Regions from separate parts of the Homo sapiens genome. Here region 1 is linked to region 2. The links come from fine-mapping of genetic effects on gene expression. A gene starts in region 2. The other region holds a variant in brackets. All regions are shown on one strand. Distances are from middle to middle.

Region 1 (5,382 bases), 24 kb before region 2:
AACAACATGGGCAAAGGTACAGAGGCATAGGTGTGCTACAGCTGAAAAAAGCTGACTGTGGCTTGACCCAAAGAGGCGACCTTGGGAGGAATAAGCTGGAGAGCAGGGCTGGGGCCTCCCAGGAATGGAGAAAGCTCAGACTCTACCCTGAAGGTACGGGGAGGCATTGGCCGTCCTTACACAGGAAGGTCGGGGGAAGCCAGGGTTTGGAGGCTGGTGGCCAGGTGGAGGAGCTGGGAGTTCCCAGGAGCTGGGAGGAACTGGGTATGAGGAAACCAGTTAGAGTTACTCCAAGAGCCTGTCCGGTCATGAGCAATGGGTGCTTCTGAGGATGAGGAGAGAGGCAAGAAACATTTCATTGGTAAAATACAGGGTGCTGATAATTAATTAGACATGGAGGCCAGGATCCCCTGCAAATTCATACTTGCAAATTACAATGCTCTGCCCCTGTGGTCCATGGCACCCGTGTGGTCCTGTCTGTGAAGAACTGAGCCTCCAGAAGCCCTCAGGTTCCACCCCAGGGACAGCTGCAATGGCAGTCCCTGTGAGCATGCCCGCTTCAGGACTCACATGAGGGTGCAAACAACAAATGCATGTCACAGAGTTTTTTGGTTAAAACAGAAAAAGAAAATCTAGTGTCCGATTATCTCTCTCACCATTAGATTTTAAATTGATCACGGGTTTCTTTTTGTTTTCATGCCTGCAAAATAAAGAAACAGTCTAAGTTCTGAAAAAGAAAAGACAATGAGACTAATATTTTCATAATGAACGCATTAGAGAAGAAGCACTTTGATTCACTGGAGGCCAGAACTTTACACTTACTTCCCAGAGTTTAAAAGTAAAGGGAAAATATCGGGATGCAGCGTGGCCTTGTCGGGAGGGTCGCTACTCAACAGCATTGCTCCCGTCCTGCGTGTGTCCCCTCGGCAGGTCTGCATGGCCCACCCCGCCCTGCTGAGCTGTGCCTGTGTGGGGCCACGTGTTCTTGGGGGAGGATGATCGCATGTTCCCCTGAGGCAGGGGACCGGTTTCCCTCAACAGTCTTCTGGAAGACAGTGATGCATCAAACTTCAGTGCTTTCAGGCAAGCTAAAAATGAAACACTTGCAGTAGGGAATTCAAGATGTTGGTAAGGAAGTTAAAATACTTAGTCAAACCAGTGGCAGCAATACTAACAGTTAAGAAAGGAGTTCAAAACAAACACCTGGTAGAGGGCCCTGCAAGTGTCACATAAATGCTAGTGTTCGTGGCGTCCAGGACCGTCTCGACTGAGGCCAATATGACAAGAAAACTGGCTCCACGGGATATGATTTCTCTGTGTGCCTTTTCAGGAGCTTTTGCAATTTTAATGAATTTAAAAGTCTCCTCAGGGAGTGTCACTCGAATGTTTTATGATGCTGAGATTCTTTCAGAATTGCCTGAATGGTCACAGGAGATGTTGGGAGAGAAACCATTCTTGGTGCATGGCTCGACACTTTGCCCTACCCCACGCACCACCACCGCCCTTCTCACAGCCAGGGCCTTGTTCTTCTGGACACAGGAAACCCTGCAAATATATCTTTTCCTTCCCTTTGGGCCAAGTGTGGTTGACTTTTGGCTTAAAAATCTACGTTTTGCTATAATTTACTTTTTTTTTTCAGAAAAACATGCTCCACTAAGGTATCATTTTCTAGGCTACCTTTCAGTGTTCCCTTTAAATTTAGTGCCTGTTTCTTTAATTGCCATGACTGAGTAGTGCTCACAGCCATTTCTCCATGAAGCATGGAAGACCCCTACGAGCATCTGGAAAGGCCAGCAGCTGACTGACAGTCCTGGAGCTGCCAGGATTGTGGGGACCTGTCAGTGAGGTGAGCCTGCAAGAACCCATTTTACAGAAAGTGACACACACATCACACACACACTAAATGCAACTGCAGGGATGTCTATTATTTCCCCACCTCCCCCTACCTGAGGACACTGGGCTAGGTGCTGCAGGGGAGGGTGGATTATAAAAATGCTAGGAGGGGTGGAAAGAGGCTAATTTGCCAGCCGCGGTCCATACAAGAAGAGCCACAGGGGGAGCAGGAGAGATCTCTGCCAGCTGGGTGGATGGAGAGCACTGTGGCAGGTGATTGGGGGAGCTGCAGGACCACAGAGGAAGCCCGGCACCTCCAAAGGCAGAGGCCTTCACAGGACAGGACTGGGGAACAAGGTGTGGCGGGGTGGGGCAGCAGGGAGCCCCTGACACAGGAGAAAGGACACAGTGGCAGGTGAGCTCAGCTCCTCCCGTCTCAGCAAATGGCACCCCTGACCCACTAGTCTCCCCAAGCCCCTCTCCAGTCTCCACTCCTCTTTCCTTCACATCCAGTCTGGCCCTCGGTCCTGCCAATTCCACCCCCACCCCTCTCGACCCCCCTGCAATACTTCCTGCAGTCCTCACCAGTTCCCTGGGCACTGCCAGTACACTGGTCAACAAAACTATCAGCTCTTGCTTCTCTCTCTGCAACAACCTCCTAACTGGTGACACACACTCATCTTGTCCCCTACTATCCATTTTCCACTAGGCAATGAGAGTGAGCTTTCTGAAATGCAAATCTGGTCGCTCCACTTCCT[C/T]GCTTAAAATTCTTCAATGCCTTTCCATTGATTTCTGCACAAAGACCTAAATCCCAAGCAGTGCCTCCAAGGTGGATCCCCCAGGAGTGTCGTGCTGTCCTGCTGGAGCCTTCCCACTTCTGACTCCCTATCTTTACCACTGAGTCCTCGTCAAGTTGCTGTTTCACATCCACTTGTGCAGCCAACTGACGTGCCAGTCCTCCCCCTCTGAACTGCAAGATCCATGCGGGTAGTGACCACACCTGTTTCAGCTCACCTGGGTAAGGCGGTGCACAGCACTTAACAGGTGCTTAATGAGTATGTTCACTTGGAATGAACAAGCGAACTTCACTAAGCATAGGGCCCTGCTTAAAGGCATTTGATCAATATTCAATTATATAATACTTGATTTACATATTTCTATTCAATATTGCACTTCAGAATCAAGTTTCTTTGGCTTCCCTGCTGGCAAAGAAAAAAAAATAAAAACCCAGAAAAGCTGAAGCAGAAAAAAAAAGGAAAAAGTCATGCACAAGGCTGTAAACACAGACACATGAGAACATCTATGCGAGTGTGTGTTAGTCGTCACTTAACTCATCAAAAGCAATCAGCCAGCAATGCTGAGTCCCACCACGGAGGTGACCCACTGAGCATTTCAGGGACCTCACTTCCGCATGTGGCACTCTAGGAAAAAATGATTTCCTGAAGCCATGTCTCTATGAGGCCACTTGAACTTGCTTTTTCTGTTTGTCCTGTGGTTACACAGTGTAGCTTTGAGAACATTTAAGCCACAGGGAGCCAGTAAACATCCCAGTGAAATGTGAATTAATTGTGTAATGCAGGGAGCCAGTAAACATCCTAGTGAAATGTGAATTAATTGTGTAATCGTTCTTAATTGTCTGTGTGATTGGTTTTCTCACAGGAAACATGTTTCAGAGCTAAATGTGCGTGGTGCGTGGCCTACCCACGGAGAAGGGCAGAGCGTACTTTCCAGTGTTTTGTTCTCCACTCTCGTATCTAAGGAGCAATTATTTTTCCTTTTGGGAAAATCTCTGAAAGTAAATGTGACCCTGCAATTCATAGTTGATTTTTTATTATACAGAATTCTTGGGGCCAACATTTTTTTCTCTAGGTCATACCTAATATGTAAAGCTAAGGCAAGGCTGATGGAGAAGCCTGAGAACTTTCTATTGTGTGCTGGATAGAGCCAACTACTTTGGCTACTAGAGTAGATGAAAGAAAAACAAAACTGCATTTCAGAAAGTAAAAGAAATCAAAGAGTTAAGGTTGTAGGCCATGAGATATGGTCACCATGTGGTCTTATGTGCTCAGAATCTAACTGTGTAATGTTTGCTGAGAGTGTAGAAGTAATGTTTCCATCTTGTAAGGCAGACGTTGGCAAAGGTTTTCTGTAAAGAACCAGGGAGTAAATAGTTCAGGCTTTGTGGGCCATATGGTCTGCCGCAACTACTCAACTGTGTTTGTAGCACAAAAACAGCCATGGACAATTTGTAAACTAAAAGATGTGGCTGTATTCCAATTAAACTTCACGTATAGACACGGAAATTTGAATTTCATATACCTTTCAGGTGTCACGAAACATTATTCTTTGAATTTTCTTCCAACCATTTAAAAATGTGAAAACCACTCTTAGCTTGCGGGCCGTATGGACTGAGGCAGTGGCCTGGGCACGGCCCAAGGGCCACCATTGTTGTAAAGAACTGCCTCACATGAGGCCCATGCTGCAAGCCAGAGAGCCTGCCTTTCCCCCGCACCATGGCTCAGGAGCGACTCTTGGAACCCCAGAGGGCAGACTTGGTATTTTTTCCCTAGAAGTTTACAACTGGACTGGAGGTCCTACTTCAAAATAAGCCATTTTCAGGCAAGACACTGCAGATGATTAACTGAGTAAATTAAAATATAACCATGTTCCGCCGGTCTCATTTGAATGGGACAATCGGCTGGGTGTGGTGGCATAAGCCCAGCACTTTGGGAGGCTGAGGCGGGTGATCACCTGAGGTCAGGAGTTCGAGATCAGCCTGGCCAACATGGTGAAACCCTGTCTCTACTAATAATACAAAAATTAGCCAGGCATGGTGCTATGTGCCTGTAATCCCAGCTACTTGGGAGGCTGAGGCAGAAGAATCGCTTGAACCTTGGAGGCAGAGGTTACAGTGAGCTGACATTGCACCACTGCACTCCAGCCTGGGTGACAGAGCGAGACACCGTCTCAAAAAAAAAATAGTTAATTAATTAGTTTTAATTAATTAAAAAGTAATGGGACAATTATCTCTGCAGAATTTCCCAGTAGCTTTGGTCATTTTTTCTCCCAGCTCTACCAGGAATGTCCCATTCCCATTAGGGAGATGCTCACTTGTTACCATTCTGCTGTACTGACTTCATCACATCTCTCCCCTCTGCCTAGCCATTAAGCCATCTTATTTTGGATGCATTTTGGTAACTGCTTATAAATTCCCCTGCTACTGATAAACCAGATTAGGACAATGCTAATCAAAGTCACTTGTGTTCTCAACCTTGTTAAACTTAAAAAGTTAGGGCCAGCCAGGACTTCAACAGAATAGGTTTTATCCGAGAGCAGCCCTGGCACACAGTGAACACTCTATACGTGGAGTCAGGATGACACAGTGCACTATGGAAAACAGTAACAATTACGTGTCAGTTGTTCATTTTATATGAACAAAAGGCTAACGTAGCTAGAATTGGTCTACACAGTCAACATCAATATAAAGTTAGTAAGAATTACTGACAATAGGTTTTGCTTTGTGGAGCCAACAAGTAAAGACAAAAATGA
Region 2 (5,382 bases):
TACATAGTAGGTCAGGAAGTGTTTCAGGGAAACCGACCTCCCAGCAGCCCAGCTGGGCTCAGGTTTGCCCCACTTTATAAAAGGCCTGCCTCTCGGGATGAGCTGCATTTGAAAATCCTTGCATGCTGCCCACCTCTCCAGGCCTAACCCAAGAGAAAGGAAAGGCAAGCTTTGTTTATCATTGCTCTCAGAAGCAGCCTTGCAAAGCCCATCTTCTGTTATGATGTACACTGATGTTTAATTGATCCGGACATCCTGATGCAGTTGTCTTTTTGGTAAAATAAAAAAGGCAGGGTAGGCCGGGCGTGGCGGCTCACGCCTGTAATCCCAGCACTTTGGGAGGCCAAGGTGGGTGGGTATCTTTAGGCCAGGATGCGAGTACAGCCTGGCAAACGGGGCAAAACCGTCTCTATTAAGAATACAAAATTAGCCAGGCTTGGTGGAACATGCCTGTAATCCCAGCTACTCAGGAGGCTGTGGCACGAGAATCGCTTGAACCCGGGAGGCAGAGGTTGCACTGAGCCAAGATCGTGCCACCGCACTCCAGCCTGGGTGATGGAGTGAGACTCTGTCTCAAAAATAAATAAATAAATAATAAAAAAACAAAATAAATAAAAGAGGCAGGGCAGTGAAATGGAAGGAGTTCAAGAGCCCAAATCCTAAAGTCTGAGTTCAATTCAAGATCAAACACACCAGCTACATGGCCTTGAGCAGGATACCTTTCTAAGTTTCTGTCTGACCACTTGTAGGGTGAGTACTAATGTTTACCCTATAGGACTGTTGTAAAGGTTAGAGATGAGGGAGGCTTAGTGAGGGCAGGGATACCATCTTTTGTGGTTTCTGGTATCCCAGGATTCAGCCCACGTAAAAATATTAATTTTATTAACTAATATAATTAAGGATTTTATATATAATCATCTATAATGATATATGATATATAATATATAACTAATATATATTGTATCAATACATCTAATTATATACTACTTATTATATACAGAAAACCATACATTTATAGATATAAAAATTCATCTTTGATTTCCACCTGGATTCTTTAGTGAACAACAACTAGACTAATAAAAGGGGTAGATTATATTCACAACAACAGATCATACAGGCTATGGAATACTGACTCTGTGTTTGTGGGTGGGGCATCAGTGTGTGCCCAGGAGGGTTTCTATGTAAATCTAAACACAGAAAACTCGCATGCTCCATAATAACGATTAGCAAAGCAGATGCCTTCAAAGTGATAGCAGACTCTTTAAGGAGGAGCCCCAGCCAAGAAGACCTCCGTTTTGTGGTGATAAGCAAATGAGAAAGGGAAATGAAGAGATGAGAATGCTGGCACACTGGATTCCATTAGCATAGAGGAAGAAGCACAGTCCCTTGGCATTAGAAGGAATGTCAGGGGTCACAGAAGCAATAATTCCTTCCACAATGCTCTTTTAAAGAGCCACAGGGCCAGGCAAGGTGGCTCATGCCTATAATCCCAGAACTCTGGGAGGCCAAAGTGGGCAGACTGCTTGAGGTCGGGAGTTGGAGACCAGCCTGGGCAACATGGTGAAACCCCATCTCTATAACAAATACAAAAATTAGCCAGGCATGGTGGTGCATGCCTGTAGTCCCAGCTACTTGGGAGGCTGAGGAAGGAAGATCACTTGAGCCCAGGAGATAGAGGCTGCAAAAAGCTGTGATCACAACAATGCACTCCAGCCTGGGTGACAGAGCAAGACCCTGACCCTGTTTCAAAAGAAAAAAAAAAAGTCATGGTTCCTGCCATGGTTCAAGCACTCACCCCTGGAAGATACTGAACTTGGTTTTGCTGAAATGAAGAGCTAGAAAGTTGTTTTGTTACTGAGCTACGCTCTATAATTAAGCTCGATAAATATTCTACCTGGTATATGGCAGCTCCTCAAATATTTAAAGAGCTACTGTGCCCTTCTCAGGTTAAACATCCCCAGGACCCCCTCATTCTGATAAAGGTATGACTTCACAGCTTCCCACCCCCAACCTCTTGTGACTTCCCAGATTTCACCTCAGCCACGTCTTCTCTTATACTTCTTCTGAAATGGCTGAAAAGCAAATAAAGACGCACAGAAGGATCCCACACTGAAGAATAGCACTTCTGGGCGCCTAAAATTACTATTGTAACCTTACTGTCAATTCAAGGAACAGCTGTAACAAGCAGCTGTCAGTCATAACATCTGGGTGTAGTTACACTAAGGTAGCCCAAAATCTCATTATAAAGCAATCTCACGCACAAGGGAGCTCCCCACAAAATGAAATCACAGAAAAATGCTGAAGATAATTTTAGCATATTGAGGAAACTGGTGCCCACATTGGACTCACTGCTTTAAAAGTGTTCCACATACATGTGTGTATGTTTCACAAAGTATGTTCCACAGAACATTAATTCTGTTGGCTATTAACAGAAAGAATTCCATTTTCAAATAAATGATAAGTTATCTGAAACTCTAGGCTCACATTTTTAAACAATTCCTTTGCTGAAAGTCTTTTCCAAGTCTTCACTATGCTTCTATGCATTATGCATACTGCAGAGAGAGAGAAGGATCACACAGGGCTGGGCAACAAAATATGTATTAATTGATGTATTTTCTGGGTGGAGCATTGCAAATAACACATTTTGGAAAATGCTGCATTAGCTCATCAATACTTGTGGGGCAGCACACACATCAGGGGAGGTCTGCTGCCTGGTAATCAGGTACCCTGCAACATCATCCATTGTGAGCACATAGGGTTACTAAGGGCACATAGGCACCCCGAGACAGAGATGTCTGGGCCTTGACCAATGAGATCTTCAGGAGTACTTCAGCAGCTGTTTCGGATTTTTCTCTGTGGATGTCCTCATGGGACTAAGTGGAAATTGGAAAAGTATCATCAAACTCTTCTTGAGATTCCTTTTTGATAAGGTAACTATCCTGGATTTGAATCTCAATTGTGTTCTCAAGTGGCAATTTCTTGCAGAAACTAACATAGCAGTACTATTGGGAAGCACTGTCTTGCAGGTATTGCAGCAGTACTGTGCTTGTGTGGGTCTTGGTCCCAAGTGGCCACCACAACTCAAGGAAGGTATGCAGGTCCACCAGAACAGACTGAAAGTGTCCACTCTTCCAGGGGCTCGTCTCACAATGGCACTTTCTGTGATGCTGCATCCTCATTCTCTCTACTTATGTTCTTCTTTGAGTTTGCTTTGTGAGGCTCCTCATAGCTGGTTTGGAAATGCTGGGGACTGTGGGGGCCCACACAGAAGACCAGGAACACTAATAATGTTCACATGAATATTATTATACTTCACAGATAAAATTGAGTGTCTAGTATCTGCTTGGCACTTTCACAAATGATTTCATTTAAACTTTAAGACAATCCTATTGGGCAGTATGTCTGCTTTCCCAATACAGAGGCTCAGAGAGGGTAGAGAAACAGAGCAAGGAGTAAAAGAGCTGACACTGATGGCTGGTTGCAAAGCCCCAGCCCAACTGCTACATTTCCTCAACCTTCAGGGGACAGCCTCTGGAATATTTTCTTTGGAATATTCTAGAAGGAATGCAGCCCACACAAACACAACCAGCATGCACCCACACAAACAGGACACCCCAACAGAACTATTATAAAGAGGCAGACAGACTCTGTCTTAAATTAAACTACATACTTGCTTTACTCTACCAAAAGTGAAATCTCCAAATAGTTATGCCAAAGTCACAAACATTTAATAAAGGGATGATGGTCAAGAACTTAGAGATCAAAGTAGCTGCAATGATGGACAAAGCAACAGTATTAGTAGTGCCAAGGTGCGTGAAGCTCTCAAACATGAATTTCATGGGAGGTCCCTGGGTGGGGATAGTACACTGGCAAGGACAGAACAGTAACACCTTAACAATGTGTATGGCTTTGCTAAGTTTTTAAAAAATTTCCAAAGTACTTTTTTTAATGTCTAATATTCTGGCACAAGGCATTTTTTTTAACTGCCAACTATTGATGGATCAATGGCAGGTTGCTGGAATTACAATTTCTTTTAAAATCTTAATGGCAAACAGCCCAAGTTGCTTCTAGCCATATTGCACTTCTGCATGAGAAGGGATTTGAAACCCTGGTACTTAATTATCCGTTTTCTTATAAAGAAAGTATATGAGAAAATACATTTGCATTAACTTTGGGGAGAGTCAACTACTCCCAGCAAGGGATGATTGTAAAGAATACTGAAAAGAGAAGAATGAATGAACAAGGTCATTTCCTGGTTTCTCCTCAATAATCCTTTGTAATTTTAATTGAAATAAATTCAGAGGCCATTAGATACTTCTGCATCCAAAAGTAAATGCAAGAGAAAAGTATCCAAATGACTTCATGGTTATCTGTAGTTTGGGATCATCTACATTTCTATTAATAAAAATAGCAGGGAGCCATACCAGAGTTTGCAGAAAATGCAGACTAAAAACACAATAAACATATCATTGGTGAAAATGTTTAAAATAAAAAAACTCTGCATTTTAGAGTGAAATATTATCTGAATGCATAATATATACAATAACTGCTCTACCATAAACTGCTTTTTCAAAACCAGAGTTCATCACAGAAACATGAGTTTAAAAAATTAATCATGCCAGGAACTGCACTGCCATAAAAGCAAGCCATTCTTTTCTGCTTATAAACAACAAAACTACCACATATGCAGATGCATGCCTCAGTACCTTGGTGCAATGGTGTATTTACTTGTGTAAATATTTAAAGTCAGACCTTTGAATTTATAATGAAGTAGTACACCACTTCACAAAATAAGGTACTAGTAAATTCAGATGTATGACAAGTAGAACTCTGTACAGAATACTAATTGCTGCTGTTCTTATTCTAAAAAGAAAAAAATAATGATATCGTTCAGATTCCACCTAAACAAGCCTAATACATGTGCAGAAATCTTAATAGGTCTTGATGAAGCCCGATTGGTACAATTTTTAAATTATCAGACAGGCTTTGTAACTGAGGCAAACGCAAGCTTCCTATCTGACATTTTTTTATTATCTGCTTATTTTAATATACATATGCAATTACTACAGGAAAGAAAACAGTAAAATCAGAAACATCTATAGTTTGCTGTGTAATGACCGGGTGTTCCCCAGGGAGATGGACCTTTTTACAGAGACGCAGGTGCTGAAAGGGCACATGATGGAGGATGTTACAGGTGTAAATATATAACATGGTGATGAAGAATTCAATAGACACGGTGATTTTCCACCTTAGTTTATGTTAACATAAGTATATATGTTCTGCTCTTAGGATTAATCTCCTGCTCCAGCATGCAGTAGCTGAATACATGTGCTCTTAGTGGGGTCCACAAACCACTGACCCAAAATGTTCCGCTTATATAAT

Alleles and levels. Alleles are on the strand shown, and positions count from the first base shown. SD is a standard deviation of normalised expression in the study named.
For the expression in subcutaneous fat of the gene that starts at base 2,788 in region 2, allele C in region 1 goes with a higher level than allele T (large effect, 0.86 SD a copy in GTEx).

What was found. PIP is the estimated chance that this variant, and not a neighbour inherited with it, causes the effect. A credible set is the group of variants that fine-mapping cannot tell apart.
Region 1: its variant is the best candidate, but not a certain one, in a credible set for the expression of KIZ-AS1 in subcutaneous fat (GTEx, PIP 0.78).

The regions. Positions count from the first base shown.
Region 1 is chr20:21,239,563-21,244,944 of GRCh38, reverse strand. It overlaps KIZ (kizuna centrosomal protein), which reads right to left. Exons shown (of 13, transcript NM_018474.6): 12 at 657-700. Among named protein-coding and RNA genes, the nearest start is that of KIZ-AS1, 24 kb to the right of the region's middle. The variant C/T (reference allele first, on the strand shown) is at 2,592.
Region 2 is chr20:21,215,695-21,221,076 of GRCh38, reverse strand. KIZ-AS1 (KIZ antisense RNA 1) reads left to right here and starts at 2,788. Exons shown (of 8, transcript NR_109956.1): 1 at 2,788-2,930. The region is part of intron 9 of KIZ (kizuna centrosomal protein); the gene reads right to left.